2 separate regions of the Homo sapiens genome follow, and region 2 is linked to region 1. Evidence: fine-mapped expression QTL. A gene starts in region 1. The other region holds a variant in brackets. All regions are shown on one strand. Distances are between the middles of the regions.

The links. PIP is the estimated chance that this variant, and not a neighbour inherited with it, causes the effect.
Region 2: its variant is the best candidate, but not a certain one, in a credible set for the expression of CD46 in B cells (Schmiedel 2018, PIP 0.51).

The regions. Positions count from the first base shown.
Region 1 is chr1:207,750,610-207,753,523 of GRCh38, forward strand. CD46 (CD46 molecule) reads left to right here and starts at 1,445. Exons shown (of 13, transcript NM_172351.3): 1 at 1,445-1,700. The coding sequence starts at 1,604. RefSeq lists silencers at 1,286-1,395, 1,975-2,332 and an enhancer at 1,496-1,705.
Region 2 is chr1:207,843,076-207,845,989 of GRCh38, forward strand. No RefSeq gene overlaps it. Among named protein-coding and RNA genes, the nearest start is that of MIR29B2CHG, 22 kb to the left of the region's middle. The variant G/C (reference allele first, on the strand shown) is at 1,799.

The DNA.
Region 1 (2,914 bases):
ATCTGTAATCTTATCAACCATTGTTAATTTTGCTGTATTCCTAGTTTCTTTTTATACATATCAATATGGTACTTTTGTTTTAATAAAAGGACTGCCAAAAGGCACATGCCAGTTTGGACTCTGCTTTTTCCACTTACAATGATATCATAGTTTCTCATATTTGGTATTCTTTTGCAATATTTGCTGCATAGAATTCCATCACACAAAGGTAACTGCCAGAAATTCTTTATTACTTTTGCTAGACACTTAGGGTTTACATTTTTTCAAAAATTAATCACATCAGAGTTTTGATCACATCAGAGCTTTGATCACAGCTCTGATGATTTCTCTGGGAACTGAGAGCCTAACACAAGTCATGTCCACTTTAAGACTTTTAACATACTGAAAAGTTATGTTACAGAGTGCTGGTCCCCCTGCAACACGTTCACTCACATTGGCTGACGTTTTAATTCTTTGCCAATCTGAGGGGAAGAAATGTCAACTCTTTGTTTGCTCTTTTAATGTCAGTCATGTCCTTTTCCTTTTACCGGTCATTCCGGTTTACTCACAATCCTACAAATCAATCCTGCTCATTCTTAATTTTCCAGTATTGTTCCTCAGATTGTTTCACCAGAAAAGTTCTCCCCCTTATCCACTCTTCACCTAACAATTTCTACCCATCCGAATCCTTCTGCATTTATTGCTTCCAGGAATTTGGCACTTAGGACACCCTTGTCCTTACATTGTTCATGCATGTATATTTCGTCTTCAATAAAAAATTTAGTTGCTCAAGGGCAAGGGCCCCATAGAGTCTCAATATTCTAATTGCCTGGTGTTGCTTAATAAATTAGATTCGGAAGGGTCCCCTCCAGGGAGGGGAGCAAAGGGCAAATTACCTTAGGGGCTGGGAGTGCAGAAGCCAAACCTTTGAGATTGTGAAAACAAGACGGCCCCGAGACGATCCAGTAGCAGGCATTCAAGCAAGAAAAACTCAAATATTGTTCCCAATAATGCCTGACTAATGCCAAATACCAAGTAAGGGCCCAGGCAGTCCTGACAGCCTGCAGTGCCCCAGGATAAAACTAACCCTGAGGGGTGCTAGCCCACGGTGACCCCCTGTCTAGACTCTGGATCTCTATTTTTAGGTCGAAGTGCTTTATTCTTGACTCCCGAATTCCCGGAAACTATTACCAAAGCAGCTTAGTTTTCTCTCCACCCTGCCTGGGTCACAAATATGACGGCGAGCCAGTCCTTTCCCGCAGGACGCCTCAGGCTTCCGGGATGGTAGGCCAAGGGCTTAGCAAGAAAAAAGGCGGCCTCGGGGAACCTGTTCTGTTAGGTTCCGCCAGGGCCTCCCCCTGACCTCTCGAAGGCCAAGGGCTGCCCATGAACGCCGAGGCTCCGCCCCGCGGCCCGCCGATTGGCCCCAGCCGCCCTGGTGACTCGACGCACTTCCGCCCCGGGCGCGGCTCGGGCCACGCCCACCTGTCCTGCAGCACTGGATGCTTTGTGAGTTGGGGATTGTTGCGTCCCATATCTGGACCCAGAAGGGACTTCCCTGCTCGGCTGGCTCTCGGTTTCTCTGCTTTCCTCCGGAGAAATAACAGCGTCTTCCGCGCCGCGCATGGAGCCTCCCGGCCGCCGCGAGTGTCCCTTTCCTTCCTGGCGCTTTCCTGGGTTGCTTCTGGCGGCCATGGTGTTGCTGCTGTACTCCTTCTCCGGTAGGACCCCGGGGCGGGTTCGCGCGTCCGCGGCGAGACTAGAGCTCTCCTCAGTCGGGCAAGAGTCGCGGGGCGGGGCTCACAGCAGGCCGTGCCTGTTTGGGGACAGGGTTCTCTGAGGGGTGCAGTGCTCAGATCCCGGGGGTATGTGGCGGGGAATGCGGGGACCACGCAGAGCCCGAGGTGAAGCTTGTTTGGTGGCGTCGTGTGCGCGGCCAGCATTTACGCAGGATCTGGCTGCGTCCCTAAAAAAAGCGTGAATCGTGTTTTCGGGATTGAGCCAGTCGGCCAGGGGAGCGCGGACTGGGCGCCCTAGGTGAGGGCTTGTTCTGGAGTGCACAGGTGCGTGGGAGTGTTGCTAGGGCCCGTGCTGTGTCCGTGGTGAGAGTTTGCCCTGTGTTCCCTTGGTGCCTTGGTGAGTGGGGTGTTCATTAGGGCTTGGACAGTACCCGCGGTAAGGGTTGCAGTGCGTCTGCTGTGCCCCATGTGCTGGGCTGGGCGAGCAGGGGCCTGGCCAGGTGTTGCTGGGAGCGTGCTGTGCGTAAGTGGCCTGTGTGCAGAGTTCACTGTGGGCAAGACAGCTCAACTGTTTGCTTTGAATGGAGTGAGCGCGGACTCTGGGGCTAGGGAGGGCATGTTGAGTGAGAGCAGGCTCTCGGTGCCTGGGGTTAGAGAGGTGGTAAGGGCGCGCCATGCTTTTTGTGCCTTCTGTGAACAGTCTCCGTGTTACCTGAGCTCCTATTAGTTTGTAAATGGCTGCTTTTTTGGGGGGTGGGTGGGCCATCGAGTCTTCTTCCTGTTCCCAACCAATATAGATAGTATCTGATTCCATTGCCTAATGGCTTTTTGACATTGTTTTCCTTCTTTTCATTACTTTGAGTCATATTTGAGAGATGTGAAACAACCTAAAAAACAATGGTAGCCAAACCTAGTGAGAAATTAGTATCCTAACAAAGGAAGGCAGATAATGTTAATCTTGTTTTCCCCTGCAGCTCATAAGCTAAAGCTTAAGGCCTATCCCACTAAATTTATTTTGTATTTCATTGAATGGAATCAATACTTTTAAAAATGCATGCTAGGCCAGGCGCAGTGGCTCACGCCTGTGATCCCAGCGCTTTGGGAGGCCCAGGCGGGGTGATTGCCTGTGCCCAGGAGTTCAAGATCAACCTGGGCAACATGGCAAAACCTTGTCTCTACAAAAAAATACAAAAATT
Region 2 (2,914 bases), 92 kb after region 1:
CTGGCCCCAGAGCAGAGCATTGGGAGCCCAGCAGTTGTGTAGGAAGCTGCAGAGAGTAAGATGGGAGCAGACGAGGCATCCACTTTCTCAGTTTTCAGCCCAATATCTGTGGAAAGGAAGGTCTCTAAAACTCAGGTAAGTCTAGGTACAGCCCAGGCTTAACTCTTACTTCTTAATCTCACCTTTTTGTCTTTCTATCCCAGCATCTAGTGTTAAGCAGGGCTCTCAGCTGCAGCCCAGTGAATACTGGTTAAATTGACTAGAGGCTCTTGATTTTTCAGCATGTGACTGAGAAATCGCCACACTCATATTTGAGCAAGTGCATCTGTCACATGCAACCAGGTCTTTACAACTACCACTGTCCATGTTACAATATTCTACCATACATACAGGGCAATAAGCTTGCCTGGGGATTTTTTGGTGTCCAGTAATTTTAAGTAGGAGTTACATTAGATGTAGTGTTTAGATGTAGATTACTTAAGCTTCCCAACTGCCAACTCTTGATCAACTTTAAAGGGAAAGAAATAAAAGAAGTGCCGACCCTGCCTCCCACGTCCCCCGCAAGTCCACTGCCTCATCATTCTGGTCTCCTTTTGTGCCCTGTACCCTCCCATTCTTTCCACCAAGCTCCTTTTCTCAACGCTTTCTCACTTGTGGTGTCCTTCTCTCTCCTCTTCATAGTGCAGAGTCCAACTGTATTTCAAGTCCACACTCAAGTTCAAGACTTCCACTTCCACGAGGCCTTAGAATGATTTGTGCTGATGAATCTTTACGTCTGCCTCACACGTGTTGCTAGTCCTAGTGCCTTGCCTACTGCCTAGCACTTAATGGCTCTGGCTGTACTGGGTACATTTCCCCTGATCTCGTGTTCTGGCCTGTACCACTGTCCTGAGACCACCTTTCCTGCATCTGTCATGACTCTGGTCCCACCTGTGCTAGCCCCAGGCCCCTGCTCCTATTGTTCAACCCCGTCCCTGGGAGCACCTTCACACCACTGTCTTTACCCCCTACCCATGAAGGCGATTCCAACCTTTAGTCCTGAGACATCCAGGAATACCTGTTGGACAGCCCACTTGGGTGTCCCACTATCACCTCCCGTTCAACATAACTAAAATTCATTCAACTATTACCTGTTGAGTTACTTTTAAAGCCAGGATCTGTTCTAGTCACTGGTGAGCAAGCCATGTAAAAGTCCTCACCCCAAGGGTTCATCAATGGATGAAGCGATGAACAAAATACAGTGGAATACTATTCATCCTTGAGAGGGAGGAAATTCTGACACATGCTACAACACAGATGAACCTTGAGGACATTATGCTAAGTGGAATAAACCAGTCCCAAAAAGACAAATACTATATAATTCCACTTACATGCAGTTTTAAGAGTAGCCAAATTCATAAAGACAGAAAATAGAATGGTGGTTGCCAGGGGCTGTGGGGAGAAGAAAAGGCAGTTGAATGGGCACAGAGTTCAGTTACGTAAGATGAATAGAGTCCTGGAGACAGATGGTGGTGAGGGTTGCACAACACCACGAAGGAACTTAATACAACTGAATTGTACAATTACAAATGGGTAAGATGATGAATTTTATGCTATGTGTTTTTTTAGCACAATAAAAAAATGTTAAGTCCTTGCCTTCTATGCACTTTTCTGTATGTTATGCTTCAATTAAAATGAAAAAGATTTTGTCATCATGGAATTTATATTCTAGAGTCAGTATCTCAGTCATCATCCAAGCAGTTTCCTTCAAATTCCCATCACCTGTACCGCCAGTCTCCAGGCCTGTGCAGTCCTCCTG[G/C]AATTCCTCCTTTTGCCCCATATCCAAGTGCTCTCCATCATTCCTCTCTAAGGCTTGCACCTCAGTGCTTCCTCCTTCCGAGAACCACAATTCCCATCACCTCTTCATTTTTGATAGAAAAGACGAGGAAGTGGGAAAAACTCTACAGGGCCTGATTCCAGCGTTGGCTCTACCACTTGCTCAATAACCTCTCATTTAAACTTTGATTTCCTCACTCACCAAATGAAGAGTTTGACAAGACATTCATGAAGGCTCCTTCTGGCTCCGTACCAGGATAAGTCTCCGGTTCACCCTCCCCAGCCTGCCCTGAGGTCTGGTGTATTCCTCTCAGGCACTCTGAGCAGCCTGAGAAGAAAGGCCTCATTCAGGAGGGGAGCCCAGCCCGGGCGACAGCTCCCTCCAGGAGCTCCTTGGCTCTCTCGCCAGCCAGCCTGAACTTTTACTGCTTGTAACCTTGTGACTTTGGATTACCTGACCTTGAATCCTGCCAGCCCTGCACTCCTGCTGGGACCTCTTCTGACCTGACTGCCTGTAACTGGGACAGCCTCGCCTGCTGACACTGGACCCTATTCTGCTACTACAAACTGGGCTGCCTTGTGGCTGTACAACCAGGATGCTGCTAGCCAAACTGTGAATTCTCCCTGGGCCATGACCATGGCCCCGACCATGGCCCTGCCTTGGCCCTGGTTCCTGTAGTGTCCTCTGAGCTCATCCATCTGCTACGACAGGGTCCGCAATCTGCCTGTGATTGATTCATTCACTCCAAAATGTTCACTATGACACTTATTCCAAGACAGGCACTGCTCCAGGTAAGAGATACATGAGGATGAAACACAACTGCTTCCAATGTCAACATATCCCATTGCCAGGGCAAATTTTCCCACTTAATGAAGACCTATGTTAACTTACCACTGTCAAATTCTTTCATGTAACAGGTATTTACCATGTGCAATTACTATGTGCCAGCCACTAATCCAGCACTATAATAAAACAGCAGTTTAGGGAAATGCAACTTTCTATGTGGTACAATGGTTAAGAGTATGGCCTCTGCAACTGGAATCTCAGTTGTGTGACCCTGGGCAATTATAAGATTTCTCTGAGTCTCAGTTTCCTCAC